Linked DNA regions of Homo sapiens. The protein of the gene in region 1 purifies or fractionates together with the protein of each later gene. This does not show direct contact. Each region holds a gene or a part of one and is shown in the gene's direction. Other genes may lie near its edges.

Evidence for each region. Proteins that work in one complex are often made in the same cells at the same time.
Region 2: the proteins of RNF17 (region 1) and MSRA purify together in Homo sapiens (affinity purification with mass spectrometry, with the first as the bait; one large-scale study listed by BioGRID). This does not show direct contact.
Region 3: the proteins of RNF17 (region 1) and NFX1 purify together in Homo sapiens (affinity purification with mass spectrometry, with the first as the bait; one large-scale study listed by BioGRID). This does not show direct contact.
Region 4: the proteins of RNF17 (region 1) and NBPF10 purify together in Homo sapiens (affinity purification with mass spectrometry, with the first as the bait; one large-scale study listed by BioGRID). This does not show direct contact.

What each region holds. Positions count from the first base shown.
Region 1 is NC_000013.11:24,770,669-24,774,168, forward strand, and holds part of RNF17 (RING finger protein 17), read left to right. Parts: intron 1-3,500. UniProt on the Homo sapiens protein: Seems to be involved in regulation of transcriptional activity of MYC. In vitro, inhibits DNA-binding activity of Mad-MAX heterodimers. Can recruit Mad transcriptional repressors (MXD1, MXD3, MXD4 and MXI1) to the cytoplasm. May be involved in spermiogenesis.
Region 2 is NC_000008.11:10,319,792-10,323,291, forward strand, and holds part of MSRA (mitochondrial peptide methionine sulfoxide reductase isoform a precursor), read left to right. Parts: intron 1-91; coding exon 92-198; intron 199-3,500. UniProt on the Homo sapiens protein: Has an important function as a repair enzyme for proteins that have been inactivated by oxidation. Catalyzes the reversible oxidation-reduction of methionine sulfoxide in proteins to methionine.
Region 3 is NC_000009.12:33,300,516-33,304,015, forward strand, and holds part of NFX1 (transcriptional repressor NF-X1), read left to right. Parts: intron 1-747; coding exon 748-906; intron 907-2,675; coding exon 2,676-2,753; intron 2,754-3,500. UniProt on the Homo sapiens protein: Binds to the X-box motif of MHC class II genes and represses their expression. May play an important role in regulating the duration of an inflammatory response by limiting the period in which MHC class II molecules are induced by interferon-gamma.
Region 4 is NC_000001.11:146,142,005-146,146,124, reverse strand, and holds the start of NBPF10 (NBPF family member NBPF10), read left to right. Parts: upstream 1-1,320; 5' UTR 1,321-1,355; coding exon 1,356-1,530; intron 1,531-3,372; coding exon 3,373-3,475; intron 3,476-4,120.

The sequences.
Region 1 (3,500 bases):
TTGAAACCTTGAAAGAACATTCTCTTCCCCACCAAAGATGTATATTTCACAAAAATGGGAGACTATAACAATTAGTAATCTGCTTTGTTTCTTTTAGCAACCTTCATCTATTCTCATGAAAATAAGCACTATAATTTTCTTAACTAATTTCTTTATTGATAAACATTTAGTTTTAAAATTTTTTTCACTATAATTGTGTACAATTCCTCAACCTCACCTCCATCAGTAGGTTCTGTAATTTCTAACTCCAAAAGAAATTCATATTTTGAGCTTGTTATATTTGTTTTAGTGTTTTGGCAATTTGATGTAAAAAATGGCTGTTTCCTTGTTGTAAATTGTAATTCCCTCATGATCAGTGAAGTTGAGCAACTTTTCATATGTTTGACTTATCAGTGCCTCTTCTGTGTGGATCTTTAACAGCTCTTTTCAGATCCTTTGGATCTTTTCCTTTTGAATTGTCTTTTTCCTAACTTGTTGTTTGTTGTTGTTTGCTTTTTCTGGAGACAGGGTCTTGCTCTGTTCCCCCAGACTGGAGTGCAGTGATGTGATCACAGCTCACTGCAACCTCAGCCTCTCCAGCTGAAGCAATCCTCCTACCTCATCCAGTCCAGTAGTAGCTGGGACTAAAGGGGAGTACCACTGCACACAGATAATCTTTTTTTTTTTTTTTTTTTTTTTTTTTGGAAGAGGTGAATCCTTGCTATGTGGCTAGGCTAGGTCCTTGCTATGTTGCCCAGGCTGGTCACGCCTTAGCCTTCCAAAGTGCTGAGATTACAGGTGTTAGCCACTGTATCCAGCCTGTCTTTTTTCCTAAGTTGTAAGAGTACTTTATGTGATAGCAATATTAACATTTCATCCTGTGTAACTGTTTTCTCCCAGCCTCTCACTTTTGATTTTATTGCATTTAGCCATTCAGAAGTGTTTCTTAACTAGTCATTTTTACCCCTGCTTCATGAATTCTAGGTAGGGCTTTTTTTTTTTTTTCTGACTAGGCAGACCTTCCTAACTCAAAGTTATATATATATATCTTCAATACTTACGTTTTTTTAAAGAAGTATATGTTGGCTGAGCTCACGCCTGTAATCCCAGCACTTTGGGAGGCTGAGGTGGGTGGATCACATGAGGTCGGGAGTCGAGACCAGTCTGACCAACATGGAGAAACCCAATCTCTACTAAAAATACCAAATTAGCCAGGCATGGTGGCGCATGCCTGTAATCCCAGATACTCGGGAGGCTGAGGCAGAAGAATCACTTGAACCCAGGAGGCGGAGGTTGCAGTGAGCCGAGATCGCACTATTGCACTCCAGCCTGGGCAACAAGAGCGAAACTCCATCTGAAGACAAAAAAGTGGGGGCGGTATATGTTTAATTATTTTATGTGTTATGTGATGTAAGGTGCAGGTATACCTTTATTCTTAAGAATGATTGGCTGATTTTGTCATACCTTTTATTGAGTAATCCTTCCATTTAATTGAAATCCCACTTGTATTCTATATTAAGTTCTCATAGAGAGTTGGGTCTGTTTCAAGGCTTTGTTCTACTGATTTATTATGCTAGCACATAGTGTTTTAATTATTACAGTAGTGTTATAATAGTCTTATTAATTGGTGGAATAAATTTATGCTGAATTCGATGTTAAAGTTTTTGCAGTTCTTATACAATATATTTTTCCATACGTATTTTAGAATTGTATTAATTTCATATTAGATGATGTTAGGACATTCAGTCTTTCTCTCCAGGAACCTGGTTTGAGTCTCCATTTTTTTTTTTTTTTTTTTTTGTTCTTGTTTTATGACCTCTAGCCAGGTGCGATTTTTTAAAAAGTTTTCTTTACTTACAGCTTATAGTTTTCTTGTTAAATTTTCCTAAATAACTTCAATCAGCAGGAAAAGAAACAGATAACTCCATTAAAAAGTGGGCAAAGGACATGAACAGACACTTCTTTTTTTTTTTTTCTTTTGAGACAAGAGTTTCGCTCTGTCACCCAGGCTAGAGTGCAGTGGCGCCATCTCAGCTCACTGCAAGCTCCTCCTCCCAGGTTCACGCCATTCTCCTGCCTCAGCCTCTCGAGCAGCTGGGACTACAGGCGTCCACCACCACGCCCAGCTAATTTTTTGTATTTTTAGTAGAGACGGGGTTTCACCATGTTAGGCAGGATGGTCTTGATCTCCTGACCTCATGATCCGCCCGCCTCAGCCTCCCAAAAGTGCTGGGATTACAGGCGTGAGCCACCGCCCCTGGTCGTGAACAGACACTTCTTAAAAGACATACAACCAGCCAATAAACATGAAAAAATGCTCACATCACTTACCAGAGAAATGCAAATCAAAACCCACAATGAGATACCATCTCACATCAGAATGTCTATTATTAAAAAGTCAAAAACTAACAGATGTTGTCAAGGTTGTGGAGAAAAGAGAATGCTTATAGACTGTTGGTGGAAATGCAAATTAGGCCCTGTGGAAAGCAGTTTGGCGATTTCTGAAAGAACTAATAATAGAACAACCATTTGACTCAGCACTTCCATTACTGGGTATATACCCAAAGGAAAATAAATTATTCTGCCAAAAAGATACCTGTACTCATATGGTTATCACAGTATCATTCACAATAGCAAATACATGGAATCAACCTATGCGTCCCATCATTGGTGGGTTGAATAAAGAAAATGTTGTACGTATACACCACAGAATACTATGCAGCCATTAAAAAGAATGAAATAATGTTGTTTGCAGCAACATGGATGCAGCTGAAGGCCATTATCCTAAGCAAATTAATGCAGAAACAGAAAACCAAGTACCACATTTTCACTTCAAGTGGGAGCTAAACATTGGCCACACGTGGACATAAACGTGGAAACAGTAGACACTGGGGACTGCTAGAGAGAGGAGGGGAGGCAAGGGCAGAAGAACTTTCTGTTGGGTTCTGTGCTCACTGTTTGGGTCATGGGATCAACAGAAGCCCAGACCTCAGCATCATGCCCTACACCCTTGCCACAAACCTGTACACGTACCCCTTGAATCTAAAATTTTAAAGAAAAAGATAATTTCAGTTTCACATCCTGGCTTATCCTTTAATTGACTGAGTGAAGTTAGAGGACATACTTCAGCTTTACTTCAGTTTCCTTTTCTTTCTTTTTTGTATTGTATTGTGAGGTTTCAATGAGATAGTTTGCCAAGTTTGTAGGACCTAGGCACCCAGAGAATGATGTTGCATTTCCTTCTGCCTTCTTCATTTTTCTTTCAGGTATCAGTTCATGATCTGAGTGGCTTTTAAAATATGTGGAAAAAAATCAGAGACCGCAGGGCCTCAAATAAATGAACATAAGAAAACTGTTCTCAGAAAAAAGTCAACCATCAACTATCCAACTTTCTTCTATTTCTAACTGCATTTTACTTGAACACTGTCTCGAGCAGGGATTTTTCTTCATCTAGTGTCTGTGGGCCACAGTGGACTTTAGGAATTCTATTGAACCACATGATTTTAAAAAGTTTTAAATTA
Region 2 (3,500 bases), on another chromosome or scaffold:
AAGTGTCAAAATGTCTCAGCATTGTGCCCAGTTTGAGACTGGCACTGTCGCCTAGTGACCGGGTAACCCTCCCTGTTTTCTGCTTTCCTAGGTATGCGCCAGGGGAACGACCATGGCACTCAGTACCGCTCGGCCATCTACCCGACCTCTGCCAAGCAAATGGAGGCAGCCCTGAGCTCCAAAGAGAACTACCAAAAGGTAGGGATTGCTGGGCTCCTAGCCCCTGGCTTAGGCCACCATGACTAGGGCCAGGTTCTGATTTTAGAGGGCAGTCTGCTGCTTTTCAACTGGAATTGTGTTTTATTTGCACATCTCTTAGAAATTTCTGTCAGCCTCTAGGAGTGGAGCCATTGTGTCTAATACGTGTGCTAAATGAGGTTTTAAGAGTAGGCCTGGGCCAGGGCCAGTGGCTCATGCCTGTAATCCCAGTACTTTGGGGGGCCGAAGCAGAAGGATACTTGAGGCCAGGAGTTCGAGACCAGCCTGGGCAACATGAAGAAACCCCATCTCTACAAAAAATACAAAAATAAGCCAGGCATGGTGGCCTGCACCTACAGTCCCAGCTACCTGGGAGGGTGAGGTGGGAGTATCGTTTGAACCTGGGAGGTCAAGGCTGCAGTGACCTGTGATTGCACCACTGCACTTCAGCCTGGGTGACAGAGCAAGACCCTGTCTCAATGTAAAAAAATAAAGAGTAGGCCCTTATGTGTTTGCCTTTGAATCACTCATCTAGATGAAGACACAGCCTGTTAAAATAAGTCTTTTTCCTTCTCTCTTTATTTCTGTCTCTGTCTGAAACTCTCTCTTTTTTTCTTCCCTCTGTATTAGTTTTACAGGGCTATTGTAACAAACAGTCACAGCCTGGTTAGTTTAAACAGCAGATATTTATTTTCTCACAATTCTGGAGGCTGGAAGTCCAAGATCAAGGTGTCGGCAGGGCTGGTTCCTTCTGAGTGCTGTGAGGGAAGGGAAGGATCTGTTCCAGGCCTCTCTCCTTGGCTTCTAGATGGCTGTCTTCTCCATGTTTATATTCACATCAGCCTAGTTTTATGTGCGTGTGTTTCTTTGTCCAAGCTTCTTGTTTTTAAACAGTCTCTAGTCATATTGGCTTAGTGCTAACCCTCATGACCTCGTTTAACTTAATTACCTCTGTAAAGACCCGTTCTCCAAGGAAGGTCACATTCCGAGGTTTTAGGACTCCAACATATCTTTTGGAGGGAGACACGATTCAACCCATAACACTTTCTCATAACAGTAAATTGAATTATGATAAAAGTAGTTCTCGGAAATATATACATGATATCACAAAATAATTATTTTCAGAGTTGTGTACCCTTTTTTAAAATCCTCCAATAGAGATTTAGTTGTTTTAAAAACAAGTTGACTTGCTTTAGTTTTTAGAACTTTGTGATAGTACTTGTATTTTATTTATCATTATATTTTCTGATGTGGATTTGCATTTGACAGTAGAGCTAGAAGCTACTATAAAGCTAATCTATGTTAGAATTTTGTAAAAAGTCAGGTATGCAACAGCCCCCAGGAATGAGTGCAGAGACGAGGAGGCTGTAACTAGAGTGTCCACTGGTGAGCAAGTAGAAGGACGGGTGACTCAAGGTCAGTTCGACTATGATGAGCGGAGAGGCCTGAGGGAGGCGCTGACAGAGCCCATTCCTTCCTTGGCCCCTCCCACCTCCCTCCCAGGGTGATGTCTGCTTGGCTGGTCATGGTAGGCAGCCTGTGGGATGGCCCCCAGTGCTCTCTGCCCATATGTAATTCATCTCCTTGAATATGGGCTGCATTTAGCAACTCACTTCTAATGAATGACAGCAGTGATGGGAGCACTCTGAGACTAGGTCATTAAAAGATTGTGGCTCGTATTGTGAAAACTCTCTGTTACCGCGTGAGAGATGGTAGGGGAAGCCAGTTGCCACGTCATGAAGCAGCCCTGTGCAGAGGCTTACATGACAAGGACAAAAGCCTGCCAAGAACTATGTGAGTGAGCTTCGAATCCCCTCAACCCCAGTCAAGCCTTCAGATGAGACTGCAGCCCTGCCTGACAGTTTGATTACAGCGTCATGAAGGACTTCAAGCCAGAGGCACACAGCCAAGCTGTGCCACAGAAGCTGTGAGATAATAAATGTATATACTTTGAAGCTGCTAAGTTTTAGAGTAATTTAAGTATACTTGTATTTCCATTCTAAAAACCTTTTACCTATATATTCTTTCTCTTATCCCTTTTTCGTAATGGCTTTTGTAACAGTGGTGGGCTAACCTGGGCATTTATGGTGGTGGTTACACATGCAGTCTCTAGCATGAAATTTTCTCAATTCACATGTCATCTGTGCAGTTTATTATCAAGTACCTGACACTTAGAAAGCCATATGTTCTATTTGACTCAAGCAGACCTATGAGGATGAGGGAGACCCCATTATCCCCATTTTCCAGATGCTCAAAGAGAGAGCAATGACCTTAGAATAAATGAAATTAAAGAGAAGTAAGACTGGATGCAGGGAGATGAGTTGGGCAGCTATTATAGGATTCCGGGCCAGAAGTAATGGAAGCTTTGTCTAGGATGGTGGAAGTATGGGTGGGAGGGAGGGATATTTAGGAAGTACAAAGACCAGAACTTGGAACTTCACTGGAAGTGGAGAGTCAATAAGAGGGACAGGTCCAGGTCCAGGTCATGGCTGGTGATTTTTTGTACAAGTGTACAGAGAAGCAGAGGCAGATTTGTGGGGAAGGTAAGTTAAGTTGTGAAAGTGCAGAGTCTAAGGTGCCCATGACATGGGCATCCAAGGGGCTGTTTGGAGGAGCCATGGGCTGTTTCTGCCTTGCAGGGAGGATTGTTAGGACTGCTAACTGGGCTAATGCTTGTGAAACACAGGGCCTAGCACATGGTAAATACCTCATAAACAGGAACCCTTATTATTATTGGGAGTTGTCAACTTATATTTGCTAAATGAAACCCCAGTTGCTGATAAGATTACTTGGGAAAAGTAATGAGATAAAAGCAGAAGAGGCAGGGCACAGTGACTCACGCCTCTAATCCCAGCACTTTGGGAGGCTGAAGTGGGCGGATCATGAGGTCAGGACTTCGAGACCAGCCTGACTAACATGGTGAAACTCGGTCTCTACTAAAAATACAAAAATTAGCCAGGCGTGGTTACACGCACCTGTAATCCGAGCTACTGAGGAGGCTGAGGCAGGAGAAATGCTTGAACCCAGGAAGCAAAGGTTGCACTGAGCTGAGATTGCATTACTAAACTCCAGCCTGGGCAACAGAGTGAGACTCCATCTCAAAAAAAAAAAAAAAAAAATGCAGAAGAGAGGGCTTAGTACCCGAGGAACTGATTCCTCCACTTGAGCGGTGGGAGGGGAACTGTCCAACCAGGCAGGACACTACACTGGGCACCACAGGAACCAACCCCAACCAAGAACTTAAAAAGTGGTTCAATTGTTTCATCCCACTGTATTTAATTATAAAGGCAGTATTTATAACT
Region 3 (3,500 bases), on another chromosome or scaffold:
AAAAGCATATACACACACTCACACTCAGTTTTGAGAGTATCTGGCTGTATTGAAATCTAGAAAGACTTTGCTGCAATTGTGTTTGAGGAAAAAAATCTGGAAGTGGGTGAAGGTATTCAGGAATAGATCTGGGAGGATTATTCTGATACTACACACTGGTCTGTGTCACTGGACTTTGAGCTCCTGGAGCCAGGGACTGTAACACCACCATGGGGCTTATGGTAGGCACCAAGAATATCTTTGTTAAGTGAATGACTAAAGACTTTGAGGGCAACGGCTAGAGCCATCTCACCACTCATGGGTTGTTGGAACCTGCCCAGACTTGGGCTTCTTATAGCTGACACTACAGCTTCACGAGCCTCTTTCTAACCTAAATCCATGGATCTGATAGATTTAGAGGATCCTGGAAAATAGAAAATGCAAAGCAAGATCCTGTATTGCCCAGTGGATCCTCAGGCTATGTTACAAGGGGCATTTGGCTACTCTGCTGTTTTCCTGGGAATGTTTCCTTAATTGTGGGAATCCCCACCTGAGTGTCTCCTTCCTAAATCCTCTTCCTCAGCAAATTCCTGCCCCTTTTTGGCCTCAGTCTGAATAGCCAGCTGCCTTACCCAGAATCAGATATCCCTTAAAATCTCTGTGTTTGGATTCTTCTCTTGAGTGACTTGCTGATCCTTGGTTGATTAAAGTGAGGAATGGTTTTTTGTGTTTGAGTTAATCTTTTTTGTTATTTTGTTTTTTAAACAGGTTCTCTAATTGAACAACTAACAACAGAAAAATACGAGTGCATGGTGTGCTGTGAATTGGTTCGTGTCACGGCCCCAGTGTGGAGTTGTCAGAGCTGTTACCATGTGTTTCATTTGAACTGCATAAAGAAATGGGCAAGGTCTCCAGCATCTCAAGCAGGTCAATTAATTCTCTCTTCTGAGTAGTTATTCTCCCCTATTTGATACGTTTAAGTATTATTAAGCCCAGCTTTAAAAATACAGTTTAATTTCTCTTAACTACTTTTTCTGCAGGGAGAGTATGTTACCTTGATCATGTGTTTCATATGACCAGAATTAAGTTATAGATCTTAAATAAACCAGCTAAACAACAATATTAAAATATATTTTAAGATACGACAAAATCAGTCACTCTTATTGAAAATGATGGCTTTTACTTATTATTTTTTCTTTGACCTACTGATTTTATTTCCTGTGGATACATAAACAGAAGTGTGATTGCAGGATCATATGGTAATTCTATTTTTAATTTATCTTCTTCTCATTTTTGGCCAGGCATGATGGCTCACGCCTGTAATCCCAGCGCTTTGGGAGGCCAAGGCAGGCGGATCATCTGAAGTCAGAAGTTCAAGATTAGCCTGGCCAACATGGCAAAACTCCATCTCTACTAAAGATATAAAAATTAGCCAGGCGTGGTGGCGGGCACCTGTAATCCCAGCTACTCGGGAGGCTGAGGCACAAGAATTGCTTGAATCCAGGAGGTGGAGATTGCAGTGATCTGAGATTGCACCACTGCCCTCCAGCCTGGGTGACAGAGCAAGACCCTGTCTCAAACAAACAAAAAAACATTTTTTTTTCATTTTTAAATTTTTACTATGCATACGTAATAGTTTACATGTTTATGGGGTACACATGATATTTTGATACAAGCGTACAATGTGTAATGATCAAATCAGGGTAATTGGCATATGGGGATTCCAACACCTCAAATATTTATCATTTCTTTGTGTTAGGAGCATCCCATTTCTACTCTTCTAGTTATTTTGAAATATATAATAAATTGTTGTTAGCCATAGTGCTACTAAACACTAGATCTTATTCCTTCTATCTAACTGTATTTTTTTTTTTTTTTTTTTTTTGAGACAGAGTCTTACTCTGTTACCCAGGCTGGAGTCCAGTGGTGTGATCATGTCTCACTGCAGCCTTGAATTCCTGGACTCAAATGATCCTCCTGCCTCAGACTCCCAAGCAGCTGAGACTACAGGCACATGCCACCACATCCAGCTAATTTTTTTTTTTTTTGAGACGGTCTGCTGTGTTGCCCAGTCTTGTCTTGAACTCCCAGGCTCAAGCAATTCTGCATCAGCCTCCTAAAATGCTGGGATTAGACACATGAGCCACCATGCCTAGCTAGTGGTTTTTTTTTGTTTGTTTTTGTTTTTTTTTTGAGAGGGAGTCTCACTCTGTTGCCCAGGCTGGAGTGCAGTGGCACGATCTCGGCTCACTGCAGCCTCCACCTCCCAGGTTCAAGTGATTCTTCTGCCTCAGCCTCCTGAGTAGCTGGGATTACAGGCGCGCACCACCACGCCCAGCTAATTTTTGCATTTTTAGTAGAGATGATGTTTCATCATGTTAGCCAGGGTGGTCTCAATCTCCTGACCTTGTGATCCACCCACCTCTGCTTCACAAAGCGCTGGGATTATAGGCATGAGCCACCACACCTGGCCTTTTTTTTTTTTTTTTTTTAATGAACCCCATATTTAGTGGAAAATGCTGTATTCAAGCTAAGCAGTCAGTATTGTGAATTTGTTCCTTAAATGTCTGATATGCTTAACATTGAAATTATTACCACTACTTCAATATTGTGTCTTCCTATAGATTTAAATTTTTTTAATTACATGTAGCTTTTGGAAGAAAATTTATTTGGCCTACTCCCATTTTTCCTGACAGATGGCCAGAGTGGTTGGAGGTGCCCTGCCTGTCAGAATGTTTCTGCACATGTTCCTAATACCTACACTTGTTTCTGTGGTAAGTTTGTTTATATACACTGGAGTCTCTTTTACTACATACATTGTACCTCAGTTCAGGAAAGGTGGTCTGCGGGGCATGTTTTAGAAGTTACTAATGAGACTTCAAAGCTCTAGGAGTCTATAAGACTGTAATTATGTGGTCCATCACACAGCTAGAGCCACAGCCTTTGTGCTCCTGGCAAGCTGTTCTGGAGATGGCCAACCAGGCTCATGCTGCTTCTGGGCTGTAGTGCTTGTCTCCTTGGTCTTGAGACCAGGCCTGACCATGTAGCAGAGATAGGTGTGGACGTGGGCTTCATCTCACCCCCAGCAGTTACAGCTTTGATAGTCCAGATTTGAGCAGTATGAGTAAATAATAGTGTTTATTTTAATCCTGGAAATAAGTCATTGGTATTTATAATCAGATTTTTTATAAACCAGCATTATAAACTCTATCCTGGCATCTTCCCTCTTTATGGAATACTTCTTTCTGTTTTTGAATATCTCAGTTCCCCCAAGTATTAGGGGAAAACTTCTTGTAACCCAGATGCTCATTCTTGCTGCTAGCCCATTTCTGCATGTTTTTTTTCCTTTCCTGCCTTTTAATGACTAACTTCCCTCTAGTTGTTGATTTTTCAGATTTTGTTTCTTTACTGTCTGTCTCCCTCCCTGAAGCATTGCATTTTTGCTTCTGTCTTGTTGCCTCACTGAAACCGTATTCAGAAATTACCAATGGGCCGGGCTTAGTGGCTCACGCCTGTAATCC
Region 4 (4,120 bases), on another chromosome or scaffold:
CTAGGTGGGGATGAAAGCTGAGAAAGCGAAGAGGTGGTTCAGGGGATCACTCTTTCCTACTTGTTCCTCTCACCTCAAACTCACCTTCTACTGCACAGCAACACTGAGGATCGCCAACCAACCCTGACCATAACCTTGATCTTGCCATGTTCTGTTAGTGGAATGCAACCCAAAATCAATGGTGTTAGGTCATCTCAACAAAATATATATCAAACCATATTCCATAAGAACTGCTCGTGGCCCTGTTCTTTTCAGTATATGGGAAAACAAAATGGAAACAACAAAATAGCATCAGGTTTACAAAACTTCCCAAGATAGATGGTCACACATGTTTTCAGGAGACCTCTATATAAATGACTTTGATCACTTGATACCTTGAAAAGAGGTCTTGGGGCACTAGAATGACATCTATAAGTGACAAGTATAAAATGTAGTGCTCAGTGACATTAAAAAACAAATCAACCCACATAGAGGAAGAGCTTTGGACGTAGGGATGTCAAACTGGTCTAGAATGTAATGAAAACCCAAGAAGGTGCCCCAGTAAGAAAGAAGAAATCAATCTAACAATGGGATGCAGCAGCAAGAATACTGAGACAGGAAAGAAAATATTTTAAAAAAATGAATTATTCATTCACTTTCTAGTGGATACAGAAAAAACTGCAGAAGACCCGGAGGATATCAGGGCAGGCTAAAAGTTTGATATCTTACACCTGTGGAAAAGCCTTAAGCTCTGTTTTAACTGAGAGCAGGTGGGGTGACTTCATGACTACCATTAAGAAAATATAACCTGTTGGGAAACTGTTTCTGCCTTGATGATGTTGTACAGACAAGAGATAAACAGTGAGGAATATGCTTAGATGTATTGGGAAAGACACGGGTCTGTGGCATTGTCACAAGGGTACACGAATACTGAGAGTGAATGCTGAAGGAATGATCCCCATTGGTGGTGACCCTCAGGTGAGAGTAGGGTGCCTGTGTTTCAGCAAAGCCTGGGCAATTGGAATGCAGAGCTCCTAAGATTCCATGACACCCCCACCTTCTAATTCTGTTATTGCAACTGCAGACGGTTACCTGGCACGCTGGCCACATTCTGCCTCACTCTTATCAGAGTCTGAGCTACTGGCAGTGCTTTCAGCTCTGAGTTGAGGCACCTCGAACCTTGTTTTTGTGGTGAAGGATCCTAAAGTGCTGTGGGGAGTGATCACATTTTTCACAACAGTAAGTTAAGAATTTCAGTTACTGACATCCCTCAGTCCTCATTAAACCGATTTGATTTCACCAGTTTTTAACCCATCATATGTTTGGGTTTCTTCTCCCCAGTCCCTGACTCCACCTCTTCTGCCACAAACGTCAGCATGGTGGTATCAGCCGGCCCTTGGTCCAGTGAGAAGGCAGAGATGAACATTCTAGAAATCAACGAGACATTGCGCCCCCAGCTGGCAGAGAAGAAACAGCAGTTCAGAAGCCTCAAAGAGAAATGTTTTCTAACTCAACTGGCCGGCTTCCTGGCCAACCGACAGAAGAAATACAGTAAGATCTATAGGCTCACCATCATGAAAGTGATGAATGATATCCTGTCTTCTCTCTGAGACACTAAATGCTCTCTCCATCAAAAATAATTTCATCCTTCCTGTACTTCTAGGAAAACAGAAATGGGTATTTTAACATTTTGTTAAAGTTGGAAGACAGAGGTGCCAAAGTATTTAGCAACTTTCCATGTTTGCAATCAGATGGGGGTGGAACTAGAGTTAAACTCACAGTTATTGATTTCTAACACAGGCACAGAATGACCTGTTTTCTCCAAGGGGCTCAATCATGTTTTTAAGAATCCTCTCTGTACCATATAAGATCCTGCAGACAAATAACATCTAGTCTGTTGTTCTAAATGTCTAGGACTAGTGAACTTTTATTCAGTTCAAGTTTCTGTTGAGGCCCAACAGGCAAAGCTCTGTTCTAGTGACTCTGAGGGGAACTTGGTGATAGTAGCCAGTACCTGCTCTGAGGGGCTTCAAGGGGAGTCTGCTCCTAATAGAACCTGTGCTATCTATAAGTGACAGCATCAAGAGCAGGGAGTAGGGGCCGTGCAACGTGGCTCACTCCTATAATCTCAGCACTTTGGGAGGCTGAGGCGGGCAGAGCACGAGGTCAGCAGTTTGAGACTAGCCTGGGCAACGTGGAGAAACCCCATCTCCACTAAAAATACAAAAAGTAGATGGGCATCGTGGCGGGCAACTGTAATCACCACTAATCGGGAGGCTGAGGCAGAAGAATCCTTTGAACCCAGCAGGCAGATGTTGCAGTGAGCCAAGATTGCACTATTGCACTCCAGCATGGGTGACGGGGCAAGACTCGTCAAAAAACAAACAAACAAAACGATAAATAAATCAAAAATAAAAATAAAAAGCAGAGAGTACCTTGGTGAGAGTGAAGTCCTGCTTCCTGGTGCACAGGCTCTTGTTCCTAAAGAGGAAAGATCACACCGGAGAATGTGTGGAAGCAGCAGTGCAGTGTGCAAAGCAGGGACCCTCAGCCTGTCTCCTGGGCTCCATCCAAGTTGCTTGTCTTGTCTGTCCCTCAGTTTCCTCATCTGTTCAGAGGGTACTACAATAATACCTACCTCTGTAAATTGCTGCAATGAATTACCTGAGGTATTTCCTGTCAATCTCCTTGAACATTAATTGGCACAGTGTAAACACTATCTATTAGTTCTTCATTCTGATGTTTCTAAATTAACACAAACTAATCTTATGCTGTTTCTAAATTAACACAACTAATCTAAATCTTAATGCTGCCTCTCATACTAATAAAGTATTTGGGCATATTTCCTTCATGGCCTTATTGTCTTATGTCTCACACTTTATGCTTCAGATATGATTCTTAAAACCATATCTGAATATTGATTTAAAAGTGAAATATTTTTAAAGTCCTTGACATATTTGTCCTTGAAATACCCAGTAAAAGGGAAGCCATCAGTCCCATAGTCCTAGGGGCCTTCCCGACTGTACAAGAAATCACTACTTCATGCCCCAGTGCAGTGTTTTAGAGGAGAGGCTGCAAGGCTTGGGAAAGTGGCCCCGCATTCAGAGTCAGACCTCAGGGGCTGTGAGTTCTGACTCCACTTCGTTGTGGTTGAATCATCTTGTCAACTTCCTTGATGTGCCCTTGAGTTTCTCTTTTTTCGTCTTTAAATTTTGGAGGATCAGATGCCAGAAAGTCAGGAGACTGAAGAGTAAAGATGTGGAAATCCCTGTCTAGACCCTGGTACTGGGGAGAGTTTTGTCCTTGGGATGGACCTGGCTCCTGCCCTGTAGGCAGTGACCACAGCAGCATGTCCAGCCTTCCACTGAGGCAGGCGTGTCTGTCTTTTTTCAGAGTATGAAGAGTGTAAAGACCTCATAAAATTTATGCTGAGGAATGAGCGACAGTTCAAGGAGGAGAAGCTTGCAGAGCAGCTGAAGCAAGCTGAGGAGCTCAGGTGAGGGGACCCCATAGGGGGAGGCAGGCGGGTAGGTGTGTAGATCTCTGAAGTACAGCAGCTCGGCGGGGAGAAGTAAGAACGAAGCTGGGCCAGGGGAAGGGCAGAAATTGCCATGGCAGGCTCATGACACACAAATATTTATCAGAGAGCAAGGATAATAATAAGTTCTGTGTTGCAGTTGTTTCTTAGAGCCTTGTTTTCTCTTTTTCAAACAAGTAATTGTTGATGTGAAATTTACATAACACAAAATTCACCAAAGGAGTGGGAACCACCCAGCAGCATTCAGTATAATCAAAATGGTGTGCTATCGCCACCCCACTTACCCTTAGTGAGAATCACCTCCTGACTGACTGCGTCTTCTCATTCTTTCACTCAATCAATGTTGCCTCCTCGACCCTGTCCTTCTTTTCTTCTTTCATCTTTTCAATTCGCCCCATCTGCACCTGGCCTCATTTCTGTACGTGGCTTTGTATCTAGTGGCCGCAAGATGCACTATGTGTATTTTCACATGGAAATGTCCATGGCCAGAGTGAGGAACTGAAAGGATGTCTTTTTGAAACGGAATTAGGAAGACACCTACTTTTGTTTACAGAAGAGAAAGATGAATGGAACATCATCGAGGATCTTGCAGGAGCCCTCTCT